Linked DNA regions of Homo sapiens. The protein of the gene in region 2 purifies or fractionates together with the protein of the main gene of each other region. This does not show direct contact. Each region holds a gene or a part of one and is shown on either strand. Other genes may lie near its edges.

Region 1 (7,108 bases), on a different chromosome or scaffold from region 2:
TGTGTGTGTGTGTGTGTGTGTGTGTGTGTGTTTTGAGCTGGAGCCTCACCCTGTCTCCCAGGCTGGAGTGCAGTGGCGCAATCTTAGCTCACTGCAAACTCTGCCTCCTGGGTTGAAGCAATTCCCCTCCCTCAGCCTCCCGAGTAGCTGGGATTACAGATGTGTACCACCACACCTGGCGTTGCCATCTTTATGTACGTGAGTACCCATGTTTAGCTCCCACTTATAAATGAAAACATGTAGTATTTGGTTTGCTGTTCCTGCATTAGTTTGCTTAGAATAATGGCCTTCAACTGCATCCATGTTGCTGCAAAGGACATGATTTCATTCCTTTTTATGGCTGCAAAATTTTTTAATATTTTTGTATCAATGAGGTCTCACTGTGTTGCCCAGACTGGTCTCAAACTTTGGCCTCAAGCATTCCTTGCACCTCAGCCTCACAAAGTCCTGAGATTATACCTGGGAGCCACTGCACCCAGCCCTTTGATGCAGTTCTAACAATGACACCAGTCTTTTTTTTTTTTTTCTTTTTTGTTTCCCTTTTAGAGACAGGGTTTCACTCTGTTGCCTAGGCTGGAGTGCAGTGGAGTGATCATAGCTCACTACAGCCTTCAATTCCTGAGCTCAAGCGATCCTCCTGCATCAGCTTTCGGAGTACCTAGGAGTATAAACATGAGCCACTACACCCAACTAATGTTTTTGGTTGGTGTTTTTTTTTTTTCTTTAAGAGATAGGGTTGGCCGGGCCCGGTGGCTGGCTCACACCTGTAATCCCAGCACTTTGGGAGGCTGAGGCAGGTGGATCACAACGTCAAGGGATTGAGACCATCCTGGCCAACATGGTGAAACCCCATTTCTGTTAAAACTACAAAAATTAGCTGGGCATGGTGGCGAGCGCCTGTAATCCCAGCTACTCAGGAGGCTGAGGCAGGAGAATCACTTGACCCAGGAAGCGTAGGTTGTAGTGAGCTGAGATCGTGCCACTGTACTCCAGCCTGGGCGACAGAGCAAGACTCTGTCTCAAAAAAAAAAAAAAGATGTGGTCTTGCCATGTTGCCCAGGCTGGTCTCAAACTCCTAGGCTCAAGTGATCTTCCTGCCTTGGTTCCCAAAGTGCTGAGATTACAGCTGTGAGCCACTGCACCTGACCTTTTTTTTTTCCCCCCTCCTTTTTTTTTTGAGACAGGTTCTCACTCTGTCACCCAGGCTGAAGTGCAGTGGCATTTGAGGTCAGTCTCACCTTGACCTCCCCAGGCTCAAACAATCCTCCCGCCTCAGCCTCCTGAGCAGCTGGGACTACAAGCATGTGCCACCATCCCTGGCTGATTTTTTAAATTTGTTGTAGAGATGAGGTCTCACTATGTTGCCCAGGCTGGTCTTGAACTCTTGGGCCCAAGCGATCCTCCCGCCTCAGTGCTGAGATTGCAGTGGTAAGCCACCATGTCCAGCCAACTCTTTAATAATAGGCAGTTCTGACTGGTGTAAGTTCTGACTGGTATCTCACTGTGGTTTTAATTTGCATCTCTGATGATTAGTGATGTTGGGCATTTTTTCATGGGTTTTTTGTTTGTTTGTTTTGAGACAAAGTCTTGTTCTGTTGCCCAGGCTGGAGTGCAGTAGTGTGATCTCAGCTCACTGCAGCCTCCACCTCCCGGGTTCAAGCCATTGTCCAGCCTCTGCCTCCTAAGTAGCTGGAATTACAGGTGGCTGCCACCACACCCAGCTAATTTTTTTAGTTTTAGTAGAGACAGGGTTTCTCCATGTTGGCCAGGCTGGTCTCAAACTCCTGACCTCAAGTGATCCACCCACCTCGGCTTCCCAAAGTGCTGGGATTATAGGTGTGAGCCACCGCGCCCGGCCCTCATGGGTTGTTTTGTTTTGTTTTGAGACGGAATCTCACCCTGTCACCCAGGCTGCAGTGCAATCTCATGATCTCCACTTACTGCAACCTCCACGTCCTGGGTTCAAGTGATACTCCTGCCTCAGCCTCCCGAGTAGCTGGGACTACAGGCGTGCACCCACGCCTGGCTAATTTTTATATTTTTAGTAGAGATGGGGTTTCACCATGTTGGTCAGGCTGGTCTGGAACTCCTGACCTCAGGTGATCCACCTGCCTCGGTCTCCCAAAGTGCTGGGATTACAGACGTGTATACACAAGACACAAAGATCAGCTCAGGATGGGTCATAGGCCTAATGGTAAAAGGTAAAACTATGAAGCAGGCTGGGCATGATGTCTCATAGCTATAATCCTAACACTCTAGGAGGCCAAAGCTGGAGGACACTGTAGCCCAGAAGTGTGAGACCAGCCCACACAGCATAGTGAAGCCCCGTCTGTACAAAAAAACAATATTAAAAAAAAAAGAATTAGCTGGGCATGGTGAGTGGTCCACGCCTATAATCCCAGCTTCTGGGGAGGCTGAAATGGGAGGATCCCATGAGTCAGGAGGTCGAGGTCACAGTGAGCCATGATTATACCACTCCAGCCTGAATGACAGAGCAATACCCTGTCTTAAAAAAATAAAAACTGTAAAACAGTTATTAAGTTGAATCTCTTCAGGGCCTTGGGGTACGCAAAGATTCTTTTAGGCAGGATGCAGGACCTTGGGGTAGAACACAGAAAAACACTGGCATAAAAATAGGTAAATTGATAAATAAATTTATCTAAACAAAACACTTGTGCTCATCACAGGGCACTGTTAGAAACATGAAAAGGCACCAATGGGGGACGCAGTATTAGCAGTACATACACACAACATGACTTCTATCTGAAACTTAAAAATAACTCTGCCTGTTGTTAATCAAACAGAAAGCAGAAGAAGAAGCTGGGCGGAGGGTGAAACGTTTCACAAAAGGAAATGCAGGTCGGGCATGGTAGCTCACGCCTGTAATCCCAGCACTTTGGGAGGCCGAGGCGGTGGATCATTTGAGGTCAGGAGTTCGAGACAGCCAGGCCAACATGGTGAAAACCCATCTCTACTAAAAATAAAAAAAATTAGCCAGGTGTGGTGGCACGTGCCTGTAATCCTAGCTACTTGGGAGGCTGAGGTAGGAGAATCGCTTGAACCCAGGAGGCAGAGGTTGCAGCGAGCCGAGATTGCGCCATTGCACTCCAGCCTCGGCAACAACAAAAAAAAGGAGATGCAGGAACAGTCACTATCATTAGTCATCAGGGAAATGCAAATTAAAACATGAGAAGCCGTTACACATTCATCAGTGTGGCTGAAATGAAAAAAACGCGACAATGTCAAGTGTGAGTGAAGATGTGAAGCAGCTGGGACTCTCGTACCTTGCGAGTGGGAGGCAAAACCGTGCCACCCTCGCGAGAACTGTGTCTCAGGGTCTTAGAAAGTTCAGCACACAATTCATTACCCTGTGGGCCGGCAGATTCATTCCTAGGTAGGTTTTTTGTTGTTGTTGTTTGTTTGTTTGTTTGTTTTGAGATCTCGGCTTACTGCAACCTCGGTTCACTGCAACCTCCGCCTCCCAGGTTCACGCCATTCTCCTTCCTCAGCCTTCCTAGTAGCTGGGATTACAGGTGCGCACCACCACCCCCAGGTAATTTTTGCATTTTTAGTAGAGACGGGGTTTCACCATGTTAGCCAGGATGGTCTCCATCTCTTGAATTTGTGATCTGCCCACCTCAGCCTCCCAAAGTGCTGGGATTACAGGCATGAGCCACCGCGCCCGGCCTGTTGTTTGTTTTTGAGATGGAGTCTCGCTGTGTCGCCCAGGCTGGAGTGAAGAGGCAGGGTCTCGGCTCACTGCAGGCTTCCCCTCCCGGGTTCATGGGATTCTCCTTCCTCAGCCTCCTGAGTAGCCGGAACGGCAGGTGTCTACCACCACGCCTGGCTAATTATTTTTAGTAGAGACCGGGTTTCGCCATGTTGGCCAGGCTGGTCTCAAACTCCTGACTTCAAGTGATCCACCCGCCTCGGCCTCCCAAAGTGCTGGGATTACAGGCGTGACCCACTGCACCCAGCCTCACTCTTTGTTTTTATCCAAGAGAAATAAAAACACAGGTCCACAAAGAAATTGTAGAAGAATGATCCTGGCAACTTTGTTCATATTAGCTCAAAACTGGAGGCTGGGCATGGTGGCTCATACCTATAATCCCAGCACTTTGGGAGGCCAAGGTGGGTGGATCACCTGAGGTCAGGAGTTCGAGACCAGCCTGGCCAACATGGTGAAACCCTAGTTCTACCAAAAAATAGATAAAATTAGCCAGGCATTGTGGTTCATGCCTGTAATCCCAGCTACTTGGGAGGCTGAGGCAGGAAAACCGCTTGAACCCGGGAGGTGGAGGTTGCAGTGAGCCGAGATCGTGCCACTGCACTCCAGCCTGGGTGACAGAGCAAGACCCTACCTCAGAAAAAAAAAAAAAAAAAAAAAGCTGGAAACAACCCAAATGCACATCCCCCGGGGAGTTACGTTATTCACAAGGAGAAGCACCCTCTGCAACAAAAAGGAACCAGCAAGCACAGGCTCCCTGTTACTCCCTGTGGTGCAGGAGGCATTTTTCTGAGGGCATTAAGCACTTCAAAGTGTGCCTGTGGTGGGAGTGCTGTGTGGGCAGGACCAGCACTGGGTGGGATGTTGGGGGCGGGGAGCTCTCAGCTGCCTGCCCCTGCCCCCATGCCCACACTCTGGCAGTCTCTGGTGGGCCAGAAATGATGAGTGCTCATTTCTCTTCCACCCTGCAGGCACAGTTGGCGGGCAGCTCCCAGGTCTCCATGAGTACGGCGCCGTCGGGGGCTCCACACACACGGCCACTGCAGCCATGTGGGCCTGTCAGCACTGCACGTTCATGAACCAGCCAGGCACAGGCCACTGCGAGATGTGCAGCCTCCCCAGGACCTAGGGCGCCTGCCCTCTGCTGGCTAGGACCGGGCCCAGCCCAGCCCTTCCTGAAGCCAGAAGCGTTGCTGAGTGTGTTCCCTGTAACTGCCCCATAGTGGGCAGCCCTGGAGGAACAAGGGGCTGGCTGTCCTGGGCTCCCTGACCCACTGAAGCTTCTCAGCACGTTCCTCCCTGGAGAGCGGGCGCCACGGCTGGTATTCTGCAGGCTGAATGCAGTCTCCAGACTGGAAACGCAGAGCGGCTCCTCACGCCTAATCCTGTTGACAAGTCCCCCGCCGTGTTGGAAAGACCTCTCGCCTCTACGTGGCACCTGGAATTGGGGCGCACAGGGAGGGGCCGATGCTGCCACCACCCAGCCTTCTCTTTATTTTCAGTGCTTTTTGTTTGGCCTCCCTGCCCCCATGTTTTTCTGGCTGGGAGCTCTTGGTTACCCCCTTGTCTGACTGCTTGGTGGCAGGCACCCTGCCTGTGAGGGCCACTTTCCTCTTCTAGTAGCTGTTGTCTGGTGGGGACGCAGTGGCCCTGGACACGGCTCCCCTCTGCAGGTCTGCAGGTCGGTTTGCTGCCTGCCCTCCTCCTCTCACCCGATGTCCAGGTGGGATTTTAAAGTCTGCATTGGTTATAATAACAGTTATCAGTAATTCCTGCCCAGAAGACTTTTATTTATTTTTTTTTAAGATAAAAACTGCACAAAAGGGGAGTGAGAGAGACTAGTTTCCACATCCTTCCCTCCTTTAGTGAAGCCCCCGAGGTTGTGTCCAGGGTGATGAGTGTGGACGGGGGCACCAGTCAGTTCTCCCTTGAAGTAAACCTCAGTGCCTGAGACTTTTCTACCAAGCCACACAGCTGCAGCAACTGCAGATACTGCGGGCTGAGCAGGAGCAGTGGTGGCGCCTGCCCTGAGGCTGCCCTGCGATGGCCTGGGTGGGAGAGCTGGGTCACCGGTGCCGATGCTCTGGCCCTCCCCAATACGCTGCTTCGTCCCACTGCACCGCCTGGCTGAGGGCGTTAGGGGCTGTGCCTCTTGTGAGGGCCATTTGGGACCTCCCTGGGGCACTGCACAATTGATAGTGTACCAATAGAGGGAGACTGGGCGATCTGGAACAGCACGTGGTGGGGTCCTGCTTGTGTGCTCTGCGTTCCTCTGTGGCGTGGCCAGGCCGGGGCATGGCTCTTACCCGGGGAGTGGTGGGCATCTCGATGCTTCTTTGCCTTAATGATGGCCACATCTGGGCTGCTCTGCACCCACGGGAGAGGCTGGCCCAGCTGCAGACTGCTTAGGGACTTCTGTGTCCATCCTGGGGGGTAAGCCCACGTGACCCACATTCTTGGCACTATGAACAGAGAACATTTGCCTGTTGGCTTCTGAAGTGGTCAGGGCCATGGCTGACACCTCCAGGTCCGCCTGGCATGGGACACCAAGTGGAAGGCCCAAGCAGCTCATCTGCTCTTGGGACCAGGGGCCAGTTGGGTTGGGTCTGGTCACGGCAGAGCTATTGTGGAGGGTCAGGAAGGGTGGAGAGGAGCTGGGTTGAAGCGGACTGCTGCGGATGCAACTCCCAGCTTGCCCACCGCGGGCTGTCTGCTCTCCCTCCTAGCAGCTGTCACACTGAAGTTTTGTCCTCTGCTGTCTCCTCTGGTCCTGAGATGAGCTGTGAGCCTAGGTGGCCAAGGCTTCCTGCATTGCTTCCCTGTGAGTCCAAGGCCTTCCCCCACCACTGGGCAGAGGCTGGACAGCACGGACTTCTAGAGAGAGCCGCGTTGCCAGTTCCTCTCCCACTCGCTCGTCCTTATCCACCACGCTATTATAGTTTCCGTTGTCCTCCACCAGCATTTCCCTTACTCTGAAGTTCCGGCATTCACATCATTCATGTTTTCTTTTGTCTTTTAGCTAAAGGAAAAGCATTGGCGATTTGTCTGATTCTGGTTTTGAGTTACTCTTTGTTCAGTAATGCACTTTATTTTATTGTCCAAAGAGAGTCAGAGCTAAGCATACAGGCTTGGGGGTGAGCCCTGCTGTGAGAGTTCAGGCCCTGGGAGGCTCAGCCACCTCCTCTTGTGGGAAGGAGGTCTCAGCCCCACCTCGCATCTTCACCTGCCCTTGGTGTGGACACACCCTCTCATGCTACCAGCACCATAATCCAGTGGGGGTGACTGGGTGCACACCTGCCCAGGTGAACACAGCGGCTGCCAGTCTCCTGGTCCCGAGAGGAGGTGGGGCCTGGCCCTGGCTCCCTCCAACCAGCTGCTCCT
Region 2 (7,108 bases):
TCACTGCAACCTCTGCCTCCCGGGTTCAAGCGGTTCCTCTGCCTCAGCCTCCTGAGTAGCTGGGAACTACAGGCGCCCACCACCATGCCCAGCTAACTTTTGTATTTTTTGCTGGAGACAGGGTTTCACCATGTTGCCCAGGCTGGTCTCAACCTCCTGACCTCGGGTGATCCGCCCACCTCAGCCTCCCAGAGTGCTGGGATTACAGGTGTGAGCCACCACGCCCAGCCAGTTTATGGTTTTATAGTAGATTGTAAGATACATGTATTTATAATACATAACATAGGGAGAACTAAAGCAAAGATTATTCTGTCTCAAATTTAGTGTCATATTGCAAAAAAAGGTGTAATTAGCTGATTTTTCTGAAAAATCCTTTGTGATATGACAAATCATATAACCTCTGAAAAGCATTGGAAAGAGAATGGCTATAAAGACTCAACTTAGTTTGTCTTCTGAAAGAGATTACCACACAGCTGTAAGACACACAAACTTTCAGAACAATGAAGTCAAACTTTTGATGATCTGCCAACCCCAGTCCTGCTCCACACTTTTCACTTCCATTACTATCATCTTTTGCCTAAGAATTCTACACAAAGGCCAGATTTTTGAGAAGGCAATAGAAACAGGAAAGTGGTAAGGGCAACACTCAATAAAAGAAACCTAATTTACTCATCCTTGCAATGTTAATACTTCCAGAGAATACTATCCAAGCATATTAAATAAGAAGAAAACAAAGAATATACCAAGTGATTGGGTGGGATGAGGAGGAGAAAAAGGGCACCAAAGGCAAAGAGAAACTATGAAGAAAATTGAGGATACAACGACAGGGGCCAAGAAGAATTTTCAGGCAAACAAATGTGATCAAAAGTGAAAAGGAAAATGTCACACACAGGAAAACTTAGAAATAATAAACAGTCATCCCAAGGTCATGATCAACATACAGCTCTTAAAATGAACCAGAGGGGAAAAAATACTATTTGGAAAGTATCTTCAAAAAAATTGCATCAAAATTACAATAGATCCTCTAATTTCATTTTTAGTGACTTAACTTACAAATTTTGGTTGATAATTTAAAGATTCTTATTTTCATTCACTTTAAAATCTACATATTTCTGGCCAAGCGCGGTGGTTTACGCCTGTAATCCCAGCACTTTGGGAGGCCGCCGAGGTGGGCAGATGAGGTCGGGAGTTCGAGACCAGCCTGGCCCACATGGAGAAACCCCGTCTCTACTAAAAATACAAAATTAGCCAGGCGTGGTGGCGCATGCCTGTAATCCCAGCTACTCAGGAGGCAGAGGCAGGAGAATCGCTTGAACCCGTGAGGCCAGAGGTTGCCGTGAGCCATGATCGCACAAGAGTGAAACTCCATCACAAAAAAAAAAAAAAAACTAAATATTTCCTTTTCTCTTCTTCCTTTCTTCCTTTAGTTTTATGCCTTCTCTCTTTTTTTTTTAGAGATGGAGTCTTGCACTGTTGCCCATGCTGGAGTGCAGTGGTGTAATCACAACTCACTGCAACCTCCGCCTCCTGGGTTCAAGTGATTCTCCTGCCTTAGTCTCCCCGAGTAGCTGGGATTACACGCGCCTACAACCATGCCAGGCTAATTTTTGTATTTTTAGTAGAGACAGGGTTTCGCCATGTTGGCCAGGCTGATCTCGAACTCCTGACCTCAGGTGATCCACCCGCCTCGGCCTCCCAAAGTTCTGGGATTATAGTTGTGAGCCACCATGCCCTGCCTATGCCTTCTCTTTATAATCAAAACTTTCTCTAAGACAAAACTATGTGACCACTTCCACAAGTGACTAATACCTGATCCAAGAAACCATGGTAGACATCTTTGTTGCCTCCAAAGTTTTGAAGGATAATTTAAGTTAAAGCCTTTAATATCATAAATAAAAGGTACTCTTCACAGCAAAATAACTTACAAAATCTTAAAGTATGGCTAACACAAAATCTGAAGTAATCAACCCAGCTTACTCCTTTGACATGAACAAAAAAGGATACATCCCCTCCACCTCTTTTTCGGGGTTTCTGGTTGTTTTTTTTTCTTTTGAGAGGGAGTCTCGCTCTTGTTACCCAGGCTGGAGTGCAATGGCACCATCTCGGCTCACTGCAACCTCTGCCTCCTGGGTTCAAGCGATTCTCCTGCCTCAGCCTCCTGAGTAGCTGGGATTACAGGTGCCCGCCACCACACCCGGCTAATTTTTGTATTTTTAGTAGAGACAGGGTTTCACCATGTTGGTCAGGCTGGTCTCAAACTCCTGACCTCAGGTAATCCGCCCTCCTTGGCCTCCCTAAGTGTTGGGATTACAGGCGTGAGCCACCGCACCTGGCCCTTTTTTTTTTTTTAAGACAGGGTCTCGGGCTGTCACCCAGACTGAAGTGCAGTGGCGCCATCTTGGCTCACTGGCAACCTCCCCACCAGCAACCTCTGCCTCCTAGGCTCAAGCAATTCTCTTGCGTCAGCCTCCCGTGTAGCTCGGATTACAGGCATGCACCACTACCACCTGGCTAATTTTTGTGTTTTTAGTAGAGACAGGGTTTCATTATGTTGGCCGGGCTGGTCTTGAACTCCTCACCTCAAATGATTCACCTGCCTCAGCCTCCTAAAGTGCTGGGATTACAGGCGTGAGCCAGTGTGCCCAGTCTGTTTTGTTGTTTTTTTTGAGGGAGTATCACTCTGTTGCCCAGGCTGGAATGCAGTGACCCTAACACAGCTCACTGTAGCTTTGACCTCCCCAGGCTCAGGTGATCCTCCCACCTCAGCCTCATGAGTAGCTGTAAGGTACTACAGGTACATGCTACCATTCCCAGTTAATTTTTGTACTTTTTTTGTATAGATGATGTTTCAGCATGTTGCCCAGGCTGGTCTCAAACTCCTGAGCTCAAGCAGTCGGGACTCAGCCTCCCAAAGTGCTGATTATACAGGCAAGAGCCACTGCACTTGGCCTCAAGCTAGTTTTTTTCCTAATATAGAAGTCAAAAAACTTTATGTAAACAAAATTATTATTCACTGTTCAAATTTCAACTTAAAGTCAGATTAAGCACATAAAGGCAAACAAGTTTTCCAAAATTCATCTCTTCCTTTGAATATTTCTGAATACTTAGAAAAGTCTTAAATTTTGAAGCACAAATACCAATTAAAAACTTCCCAAATGTTTTATACCAACAATTTTAAAAGCTGACAACTTTTTAAAGTATCCAGAAAGGTGGTAGTAGACACTAGTTGCGGAAAAAAGTCAAACTTGTTCTCCTGCCATATTGATGTTTTCTAACATACTTTTAAATTTACATACAATGAAATTCACTTTTTGATTTACAGTTTTATTTTTAACAAAGTTGCATACCACCACTATGAGTTTATTTTTTTGAACAAATTGTCAAGCTATCCACAAAGAAGAAGGATTACAAAAAGTGCTTTATGAATCCTACCTCAATTAGTATCTGGCAACAACAGCTTCTATAAATGAGAACCATAACACAACCACTAAAATAATAAAAATGGAAAAGCCAATACTTACAAAGTAAACGTGTCATAATAGAGTTTATATATATGTATTGGACTTCTTCCTTCTAGAATTCTTTTAAGAGATCAACCCAAAATGATTATACTGCAGAAAGTACTCATTCATTCACTCTGAAACAAAAGTTCATTTTCTCCTTATAAAACCTATTAGTAAAAGAAACTTTCCTACTAAGGTTTTAAATTCCACTGGCTGTTAGCAATATAAAGTTGTTCAAAATATTACCCATGTTTTTTGTTTTTTTTCATTTCCCATTAGGGAACAAAAAGAAAAGCCAATAAATATATCACGCTTTTATCTTAAGGATTTAACTCAAATTTCCATCCTGTTTTGAGGCATCTTTGAAGGCAAGAATTTCAAAACAGTACCTAAGTATCTATCAGGTGGCTAGACAGCAAACATTGAAACTCACTTCATAGACATTAAATTATGCTAAGCTTTACTGAACTGAGACAGCCACAAATGTTACTTTGAAATAATTCCTATAATAAAATGGCTCATTAAAAAAAATCATTTCCTCTCAGCACACTAGTTAATCTTATTTTCAAATAGTGTACTATATTCTCCCATCTCAGCCTCCAGAGTAGCTGGGACTACAGGCATGAGCCACTGCACCTTACTATACTGTAGTATGAGATCCATTAGGCCAGGTGCATTGGCTCATGCATGTAATCCCAGCACTTTGGAAGGCTGAGCCAGGTGGATCATGAGGTCAGGAGTTCAAGATCAGCCTGGCCAAGATGGTGAAACCCTGTCTCTACTAAAAATACAAAAATTAGCCGGGAGCAGTGGCAGACACCTGTAATCCCAGCTACTCGGGAGGCTGAGGCAGGAAAATCACTTGAACCCAGGCGGCAGAGGTTGCAGTGAGTCAAGATCGCACCACTGCACTCCAGCCTAGATGACAGAGTGAGACTCCATCTCAAAAAGAAAAAAAAAAAAGAGAGATCCATTAATAAATGTTTTCTTGAAACTAAGTAAGGGTCTAATTAACAACTATTAAAATCTAGGTAGAGGATGTAAGAATACTTTAATATTCTTCTTGAGTTTTCTCTGTTTGAACATTTTCACAATAAAATGGGTGGAAAAACTAAAGAGCCAATTATTAAAAAACCATATTGAGTTTAGAAAGTAAAACTTTGAAAACATTAGCTAAATATAAGCCTCATAAGAAGTTTAATCTGCTGTAGTATGGTTTGTTTTTGTTTTTGTTTTTTTGAGACAGTCTTGCTCTGTCACCCAGGCTGGAGTGCAATGGTGCGATCTCGTCTCACTGCAGCCTCCTCTTCCTGGGTTCAAGCAATTCTCCTGCCTCATCCTCCCAAGTAGCTGAGATTACAGGTGCCTGCCACCACGTCAGGCTCATTTTTATGTTTTTAATAGAGACGGGGTTTCGCCATGTTGGCCAGGCTGGACTCAAACTCCTGGCCACAAGTATCTTCCTGCCTTGGCCTCCCAAAGTGCTGGGATTACAAGCATAAGCCATCATGCCCAGCCTATGGTTTCATCTTTCATAAATTTTTTTTTTTAATGTATTACTGGAAGTCTCTGAATCCAGACCTGTGAGGAGACTGACATACTTGTCTGGCTCTCAGTCTGTAACCTCTGACAAACCACTTATACATACTAGTTTCTCTCCTCATTTGTATAGCTATTTTAAAAGGTATATGAAAAGTATTTACAAAGTTTTTATTTTAAATACTCTGTATCAATGTGTTATTACTCTTCATTCTTTTAGAGACTGTCCCGGTGACTTATATGATCAAAACAGGACAAAGTAAGATACAGAGATCAGATTTCAGATATAATCTCTAAAAATGAAAATTAATGTATTACACATAGCACCTCTGGCATATATATGATCAAAACAGGACAAAGTAAGAAATATCAGATTTCAATACCTCTAAAAATGAAAATTAATATATTACATATAGTATCTAAAATAATTGTTATGTGGCTCTTGCAAACAATATAAAAGTTACCTATGTGTCCATATAAGACAGTAAGTAACCAACCTTTTCTGGCATTATCCTAGAATAAACAGTAGTTAAAATTTCCAAGATATTTCTAGCAGAGATCCTGACAAGGCAAAATAGAGCTAGTACAGAATGTTCACTAGCTTGGTAAGTTCACTTACTCAGAAAGTTCACAAAGGGTTGTCAGACTAAGGTGAAATTCTCAGAAATATAAACCAGGTCACTCATTACCTCGCTAGTTCAGAGCACTAAGAAAAACTTTTTCCTTTTCCTTCATTCTCTTCTCCATACCATAGTTTAGCCTGGACTCTTTCCTGCCTTTTTTTTTTTTTTTTTTGGGACAGAGTTTTGCTCTTGTCACCCAGGCTGGAGTGCAATGGTGTGATCTTGGCTCACTGGAACCTCCGCCTCCTGGGTTCAAGTGATTCTCCTGCCTTAGCCTCCCAAGTAGCTGGTATTACAGGCACTTGCCACCATGCCCAGCTAATTTTTTGTATTTTTAGTAGAGACAGGGTTTTACCATTTTGGCCAGGCTGGTCTCGAGCTCCTGACCTCAGGTGATCCGCCCACCTCAGCCTCCCAAAGTGCTGCGATTACAGGCCTGAGCCACTGCACCCGGCCAGGTGCTGTTATTCTAGAAGGTATGATAAATAGTTTATAAAAGACACATAAAAGTAAGTTTCAGAGATCTGCTCATGTCTATAGTTAACACCACTGTACTGTACACTTAGAAATCTGTGTAGAGGATAGGTCTCATGTTAAATGTTCTTACCACAATTAAAACCATAAAATATTGACACCATACTGAAACCGAAGTTATCCATGCAACTAGCTTTTGTGTCTTCTTAAATTATAAAATTAGTTTTTATTATAGAAAATTCAGAAAATAGAGAGAAAAAGCCACCCATAATCACATCAGCAAGAAATCACCACTACTATTATTTTGGTGTCTTTATTCCAATCCCATGTGTCCGTGCATGTGCACACATTTTAACAGAACTGGTAGCATAATACAATTTTGTATCCTATCCCCTTATTTTATTACATGCCTTTCCCCCATCATGATATGTTCTAGAAAAACATGACAGTCCATGTTGTGGATATGCTTTCTTATTGCTCATTTATGGGTTTGTTCTTGTTGCTGTGTTGTTTTGTTTGTGGGTTGTTGTGTTTTTTTGGTATTGTAACATTTAGGTAAACACCTTATAGAGAAAAGTCTTGCTCCACAGCTCTAATTACTTCCTTAGACAATTCCTTTAAATGTACTTCTGGGTCAAACAGTAAGGACATTTTTAAGGCTGTTGAAAAGATGACTAGGTTTCTCTCTAGAAAGGGTTTATATCACTTTATGAACTCTAACCAATGATGTATTAGAGTGGTCCACCTCTCTATGCAGTTCCTAACCTTAAATAAAACCATAGTTTTATAGGACTTAGTAAAAAACAATAAGACACACTTGTTACCATACCTACCCGAGTTTAAAATATAAAAGTTTAAGGCAGTTAACATTAGTCTGCATCTGTGTCTTACCAATATATATGTATAGGCAATAAATGGTAATAAAAGTTATGGGGTAGGAATAGAAATACTGGGCTTAAAAGCATCTTA
Region 3 (7,441 bases), on a different chromosome or scaffold from region 2:
TAATACAAACTTTATTTACAAAAGCAGGCAACTGGCTGGATTTGTCCTGCCACTGTAGTTTGCCATCCTCTGCTCTAGAATGTTATACTAGAATATAGTACTCAGCATAATATTTTCAAATGAATTAACATAAACTTTATTTTAAACCTGGATTGATACAAGGTCATGATTGTCTCCTTGTTACTACATCCAATCAAATGACCAATATATACATATATTGCTTTGTCATAAATCCTTAGTCCTAACATATCGAGTGAAAGCTGCACTAAATTTGATGGAGGGAACTCAGTTTTTTCAATGTGCCTTCACTTGGGCTTAATCTTTACTCTTTATCTTACTATTTTTCATTTCTAAACTCATATAGGTGCAGAGCTTTCTTAACACAAAGCAGAGCCCATGGCCAAGGAAAGGACGTGATTTCCAGAGTCTGTTTCTACTACTACCCTAAAAGTACAAATACTTTGAAGAAATGTAGTAAACTGATTTAAAGTCATAATACATTGTAAGTGAGTATTTTTCTCAAGATAAAACACAAAGATGCTAGGTATATCAAAAGAAGGGATGCTTCAGAAGAGAACCACACTAAAAGGAGATTAAACTCCCCCCAAAACAAAGCTTGCCTACTTCATAATTTTGATGAGGGCTGGCAGACTAGCACTGCAGAGGCAGTAGAGACAATGAGAATACTCACCCAGGATTCAGGAGATCCAGGCTTTAGCACTGTCATCTATTAATCGGTCTTCTCTAACTCCTCTGAGACACACTTTCTGAACCTATAAAATCTACGATATGTGACAGAGGGAGAGAAAGAGCATCAGTCAGATCTCTATTTTTAGGTTTAAGATTCTTAGATTATGCTAATCATCACTTTATATAGCACCACATCCATGTAAGTACCTAACACACAATTAGTCTATGTTATTGTACACATGCTCAATATGGGCTTGCCGTACAGCTAAGAAACAGAGTCCAGCTTTTGTGTAATCCATACAAGAGAACAACGAAAGTAAATATTATAAAATCATGTAAGTGATGGCATGTTAAATTTTCCATTAAGTGGGAATTCATGTTATACCCAGTTAAGACCCTCTCCCAGTTATATCTGGTTAAGATATGTTTCCAGTCCTGTGTTTATACAGGTAGAACCACTTCCTTTTTTAAAAAAATTAATTAATTTATTTATTTTTGAGATGGAGTCTTGCCCTGTCACCCAGGCTGGAGTGCAATGGCGCTATCTCGGCTCACTGCAAGCTCCGCCTCCTGGGTTCAAACAATTCTCTTGCCTCAGCCTCCCAAGTAGCTGGGATTACAGGTGCCCGCCACCACGCCCAGCTAATTTTCATATTTTTAGTAGAGACGGGGTTTCACCATGTTGGCCAGGCTGGCCTCAAACTCCTGACCTTGTGATCCACCTGCCTCGGCCTCCCAAAGTGCTGGGATTACAGGCATAAGCCACCGCACCTGGCCACCACTTCCTTTTTCTATTTAATAAAATATTGGTGGGGAAAAAGACCCTCTGGCATTTGCCGTCTCATTTGTTCCTTTGTTGTAGTGATAAGGAAAGCCATAAAATAATATTTTAAGAAACAGATAAGATATAGATGACTTTTTAGATCTCCTTCTGGCCTTATGGGTTGATGTGTATTTTTAGAGAATAAAGGTAAAATAATGATTATCAGGCTAAATGGTAATGTGGAAGTATAGGGATAATTCAAAGTTTAAGAATTCCTTCCCCATGTTTACCTGGTGTGCTTTGCAAGGTTTAGATGACATCAATGATACAATTTTTGCAAGCAACAGCCGCAGGGTTCTTAGAGGTCGGTTGTCACTTAAAATTGTTTTTTCCCTTCATGTTGTTAGAAAAATAGACTAAAGCTTTCCCTGAATGGATAATGGAATTTAGTTTCTCAAAATATCATCCATGGACTGCCTGGCTGCACCAGTATCATTTGTGGTGCTTGTTCAAAATTCATATTCCTTAGAAATGGAGGTTTCACCACTTCAAGACCCATAGAGAGTCCATTATACTTTATGCAGGGTCAGAGATGCCTCTGGAATGAAGTAGATACTCCCGCAATGTGAAACTGATAGCAAATATTAAACCCAAAGCAAAACCAAAAAAAAATTCATATTCTTGGTCTGTACCTGAGGTCATCTTGATGGATCTCAAGTATCCCTGTATAGTATTAAACCCTCTGGTGCTACTTATACACAATAATGTCAAAAAATCACTATCTAGATTAAGAATTCACATTATACTGCATCAGATTAGTGATACAGTGAAATTCAGGTCCAGAGTTTTTATCATTCAATATCCAAAAGACGTGGAAGCTACTTTTATAGCTTTCAAATATAACACGTATCAAATAGAAGAAAGAACACAGGTAAAACAGAAAGAATAAAATCATTCCAAGGAAAAACAATATTTGGGGACTATTCGTGTGAATTTCCTTCAAGTCTCTCAATATCATAATATAGATCATCACAGGTTCTAAAAACTCCTAACAGCAGGGACTGTGTTTTTCTTCATCACTGTAACCCTAGCTGTTACCAAAACGCCTAGCACATAGTAGGCACTGAAATCTTTGCTGAGTGAACAAAGTAAGTGAAGCTGAAATCAAATTGTATCTTTGATTTGGGCCACACTTTTTTATAAAAATATGCCAGCATTAAATAGAATATCACTTTCTGATTCTCAAATGCATCAAATTGATAACAAATCAATAACTAGTACTTTTGTACCAGATATTTTTCTAGAGTTTTACCCATATTAATTTAACCCTAACAGCTACATGTAATGTTAAGTGCTATTTTATCCCAAATTCGTAAATCAGGAAACTGGAGCATAGACAGTTTAGGTAACCAACCCAATACCACACACCCAGTATGTGGCAGAGCTGACTCCTGAGATTTTTATCAGACTAGGTTAACCTGTTTATGGTCATAAAATCATCCGCCTTTTATAAACAAATATATGCCTAATATTTACCACTTCAGCTACAGAAATTCTATATTAGGAAGAAAAACTCTCTATTAGGAAACTATATATTAGGTGATTGTATGACAGTTAAGATTTAGCCCCGGTACCTACAGTTACTCACTCTGCTACTGCACAAAACTCTGCAAGGGCTCCCACACCGCCCCAGGTGTGGGATGCTAAGTGTATGGTGCAGGTACCTCCGTGCACAGCCACACGGGCTGCTCTCAACCCCAATAAACATGTTTACCACATGAGCCTCACATGTGGTAAACATTTTTTTTTTTTTTTTTTTTTTTTGAGACAGGGTCTCATTCTGTCGCCCAGGCTGGAGTGCAGTGGCGTGATCTCGGCTCACTGCAGCCTCCACCTCCAGGGCTCAAGCCATCCTTCACCTCAGCCTCCCGAGTGGCTGGGATCACAGGCGCAGGCCACCACACCCAGCTAATTTTTGTATTTTTTATTTAAGAGGCGGGGTTTCGCCATGTTGCCCAGGCTGGTCCCGAACTCCTGACCTCAAGTGATTCGCCTGCCTCAGCCTCCCAAAGTGCTGGGATTACAGGAGGGAACCACCACGCCCGCCAACTTCCCATGCTTGAGGGAGAAATGGAAGAAAGTTCATGTAATACTCAGGCAAGTCCAATTTTTTCGACGTCTTTCACTTGGGCCACACACACAACTAAAGTAACTAGAAGCGCAGGCTCTAGGAGGCCACCGTTCTGTTCACAGTGAAGAGGGTGCGCTCACCGTTGGTCGTGTCCGCTGGAAGCCCCGCGTCAGGCCGGGAGCGGGACAGAGACTCTTGCTCAGGGCCGTTATCCGAACTGATCCGCTTCCCACCGCACCCCCAGAGAAACCCACCCAACCCCCTAAACCTAAGAAACCCAGACTGCGCAAACCTGCAGGAACAGAGCCATTTCCCCCTAATGTGTGCTTCAAACCCACCGAAGCCCAACTGTAAGCAAGACCAGCGTGCCCGCCCTGCACGATACTGCTTCTCCCCGCAGCAGCGGCTGCCGATCTGGGCAGCGGGTGGGTATTCCTGGGGCTCCGTGGACGTTGAGCCGCCGCGCGAAACCGGCGCCGGCTGGACCTGCAAATCGCCGCCCGGCCGGCAGGGGACGCCGCGGACGCGAGGGCGAGGTCGGTCGCCCAGGAGGGGGCGCGCGAGGCCGCAGGGGCGGGGGGCGCCGCCTCACTTGCCCTGCGCCCCTCCCCCGCGCGCCCTCCTGGCGCGGCGGCCGGCGAGGCCCCTGTGGGAGAGGGGGCGGGGACGAAACGGCCCCGAGGCTCGGAGCGCCGCGCGGCGGCGGCGCGAGCCCGAGGGGGCGGGGAGGCGCGGGCGGGTGTGCGCGCGCCGGGCGTGGGTGTGGGTGGGGGTAACCGGCGCGGGCGCCGAGATAGCGCCGGGCAGAGGGACCCGGCTACCCTGGACAGCGCATCGCCGCCCGCCCGGGTCGCCGCGCCACAGCCGCTGCGGATCATGGTGAGTGGGGCCGCGCGCCGCCACCGACACCGCCGCGCTTTCTTTCTCTCCTGGACCCACGCACCGGGCGGGAAAGGGCCGAGCGGGCGCCGGCGCGGGCGCTGCGGGTTCGCCGCTGGAACCCGCTACCCTCGGAGGGGCCGGGTCCGCGCGGGCCTGGGGAGCGGGAGCTGAGCGTTTGGGCCGGGGGCGCGCGGGTCGGCCCGAGGCCCGCGGGTCTCGGGAACTTTGTCTCGGTCCCCTCTCCCCGGTCCCGCCCCGGCACCTCGAGGCGCCCGCTCGCGCCCAGTCCCCTGTTGCATGCACGGGGCCGGGCGCCCGGGATGCCCGAGGAAGCCGCCCCTCCTTCGCGGCGGCCATTCCCGCGCGCAGCCCACCCTCCGACCCTCCGGACCCCCGAACCTGCTCTCGCCACCGCCCGCCGACGCCTGGAGCGGAGAACGGCGTTTCCCGCGCGCGGCACACACCCTGCCTCGGGAGTTCTGGGGTTCGGGCCCTAACGGTCAAGCTCTTGCCCCTCTCCTCCCTTCACCGCGCCTGCACCCCGGGGGTGTGTCTGTGCACTCGTGGGTGCCTCCTGGGTTTGCAGATTGGCTTGGGAAGCGGCTGGGTTTCTATCAGTGTCTGGGCTCGGAGGGGCTTCTGGTGTGTTCTTTCCGACAACTCCTCTCTCTGCCCGATTTCCCAGGCCAGTCCTCCACTCTGGATTAGTAACGCTTCTTTCTCCTCGGCAGTAAGCTGTGTGTGTGTGTGTGTGTGTTCACCCGTGTCCGATGAACTGCCTGACAGTAAGCTGTGTGTGTGTGTGTGTGTGTGTGTGTGTTCACCCGTGTCCGATGAACTGCCTGACAGTTTTAGTAGCAGAGCCTGGTTCTTTGGTTACAAAGGGAGAACATCTGTTGTGCCATCCTCAAAGGACTGGTCTTTAGGCAAAATGTGAAATCCGCGTTTGTCTTCAGTGGTCCATATTCAGTGTTTGCCTCACCCCCTTCCCGTAGGGTTTTCTCTCCACTTCAGGACTTGTTAAAATAAGCGCACTTCCTTTCTCTTCCCCACTCCATCTGATTTTGCTCTGGCTACCCTTTTAGGCACGTACCATCTGCCTGATTATGTGTGACCACTTAATCTTAAAATTCCAACCTTTCCTACCCCGCCCACCACAGTGTATATTCCCCTTGCCTGCTTCATTTGTCTTCTCTTGAGCATGTATTAGTTAGCGTACTGCATATTTTGTTTCTTTAGCTTGTTTCTTGAACGTCTCCTCTACCAGAATATAGGTTTCAGGAAGACACAGATTTTTGTCATTTCGTTCATTGCTTGCTAGATTTCTAGTACCTACAGCAGTGCCTGGCGCACAGTAGGTACTTGATAACTCTTTTGAATTAACCCAATAAAGCAAGCTGCTTTATGTTAATGCACAGGTGGGGAGTAACTGCAAAGATTATGCAGTTGACATTTGTAATGATGAGAGTCTCAAGTGAAGTTTGGGAGGAGGGAGATACTCCCGACAGGAGGGACCCGATTTTGGCAGCCTTCAATGACGAGTCTAGGCGGCTATCTCTTATGCCTTGTCTGTCGCTTCATGCTCTTTGCACCTTGGCATCAGAGTGGACAAAGCATTTTTAGGACCAACTGGCTCTCCTTTTGGGCTCTGAAGCTTTGTCCTAAAGTATAGGTAGGAATTGTAGTGAGTAAGGGAATAAGTCCAAGGAAATCTCTTTAGCTGAATAGGAAAGTCATGGGAATGTTAACCTAAAAGAGCTAAAATCAAGGGCAAGCTCTTGAAAGCTTTATCCTGCCCAAGTGTGATGCTTCCTGTTTAGATAAGTATTTCTCAGAAACTGTGGGTCTTCAGAGGAATTTTTTTTTAATACCCAAATCCAAATTGTATTACTTTTTTCTTCTTTCTTTTTTTGTGGCAGGGTCTCACTCTGTCACCCAGGCTGGCATGCAGTGATGCAATCTTGGCTCACTGCAACCTCCACCTCCTGGGCTCAAGTGATTCTCGTGCCTCAGCCTCCTGAGTAGCTGGGATTACAGGCGCACGTCACCACACCAGGCCAATCTGTGTATTTTTGGTAGAGACAGAGTTTCACCATGTTGTCCAGTTTGGTCTCTAACTCCTGACCTCAAGTGATCAACACCCACCTCGGCTTCCCAAAGTGCTGGAATTACAAGGCATGAGCCACCATGCCCGGCTGAAATCGTATTACTTTAAAAAAAAAATGGGCAGGGAGTAGGAAAGTTAGGGGGTTGAATTTATAAATAACTTAGTGGGTCAGTTCAGAGAGACATCCTTTTCAATACATGTCCAATATGAACTGTCTTGTAAGATATCTCTGCTAGTTAGTCTTATTATTCCAAAATAAATATTTTTTCTTTCAAATTTCCTTTTGTTTTTCTATAATGTGGATTTATGGCATTGGTTTTTTAAAAATTAGTCTGGAGAAATGTATTAATTGGAAACAAATTGTTTAATAAAATTTACATAAGTTTTTGAAAATTATGTAATTATAGCTATGACTATGTAAGTTCAGCAGTTCTGTGGTTACCATCTTTCCCAGGTAGGTAGTAGAAATTAAAGGTAAAAAGGAAAGAAATATAAGTTTGTCTTTGAAATTAAAACCAATGAACCAACCAAAGATGAATGAAAGATACCTTATTGACTTAAGTTTCTATTTGTAGGATATTTTACTGTTAGGATTCCTAGGATTCCAAAGTATCCAGCCTTTTTCTCTTTCGATTCTTCGAACGTATAGCATTTTCAAGGAGTAAAAAATCAATTTTTAAAGTATCCAGTTGGGTAAGCCTAATTTTTGGTTCTTCAACAAGGGTTCCATTTAATCTAGTTTCCTTCAAAACGTTTTAGTCAGTTTGGGAGGTTCAGGTGCTTTCATGTTCCGAAAGAGAATGTTGAAAATGTGTCAAGTAGATATTATGTATCTAGTTATGTTCAGAAAACAGGGCCCTGCTATTCA

What was found.
Region 1: the proteins of TRIM13 (region 2) and NPLOC4 purify together in Homo sapiens (affinity purification with mass spectrometry; 2 studies listed by BioGRID and IntAct, with this or other methods). This does not show direct contact.
Region 3: the proteins of TRIM13 (region 2) and ELOVL2 purify together in Homo sapiens (affinity purification with mass spectrometry; 2 studies listed by BioGRID and IntAct, with this or other methods). This does not show direct contact.

What each region holds. Positions count from the first base shown.
Region 1 is NC_000017.11:81,557,007-81,564,114, reverse strand, and holds part of NPLOC4 (nuclear protein localization protein 4 homolog), read left to right. Parts: exon of another isoform or gene 1-135; coding exon of another isoform or gene 136-194; exon of another isoform or gene 195-3,232; intron 3,233-4,698; coding exon 4,699-4,856; 3' UTR 4,857-7,108. UniProt on the Homo sapiens protein: The ternary complex containing UFD1, VCP and NPLOC4 binds ubiquitinated proteins and is necessary for the export of misfolded proteins from the ER to the cytoplasm, where they are degraded by the proteasome.
Region 2 is NC_000013.11:50,000,021-50,007,128, reverse strand, and holds part of TRIM13 (E3 ubiquitin-protein ligase TRIM13), read right to left. Parts: intron 6,135-7,108; exon of another isoform or gene 6,024-6,134; coding exon of another isoform or gene 6,021-6,023; intron 1-6,020. UniProt on the Homo sapiens protein: Endoplasmic reticulum (ER) membrane anchored E3 ligase involved in the retrotranslocation and turnover of membrane and secretory proteins from the ER through a set of processes named ER-associated degradation (ERAD).
Region 3 is NC_000006.12:11,041,250-11,048,690, reverse strand, and holds the start of ELOVL2 (very long chain fatty acid elongase 2), read left to right. Parts: upstream 1-4,385; 5' UTR 4,386-4,460; coding exon 4,461-4,463; intron 4,464-4,865; exon of another isoform or gene 4,866-4,933; intron 4,934-7,441.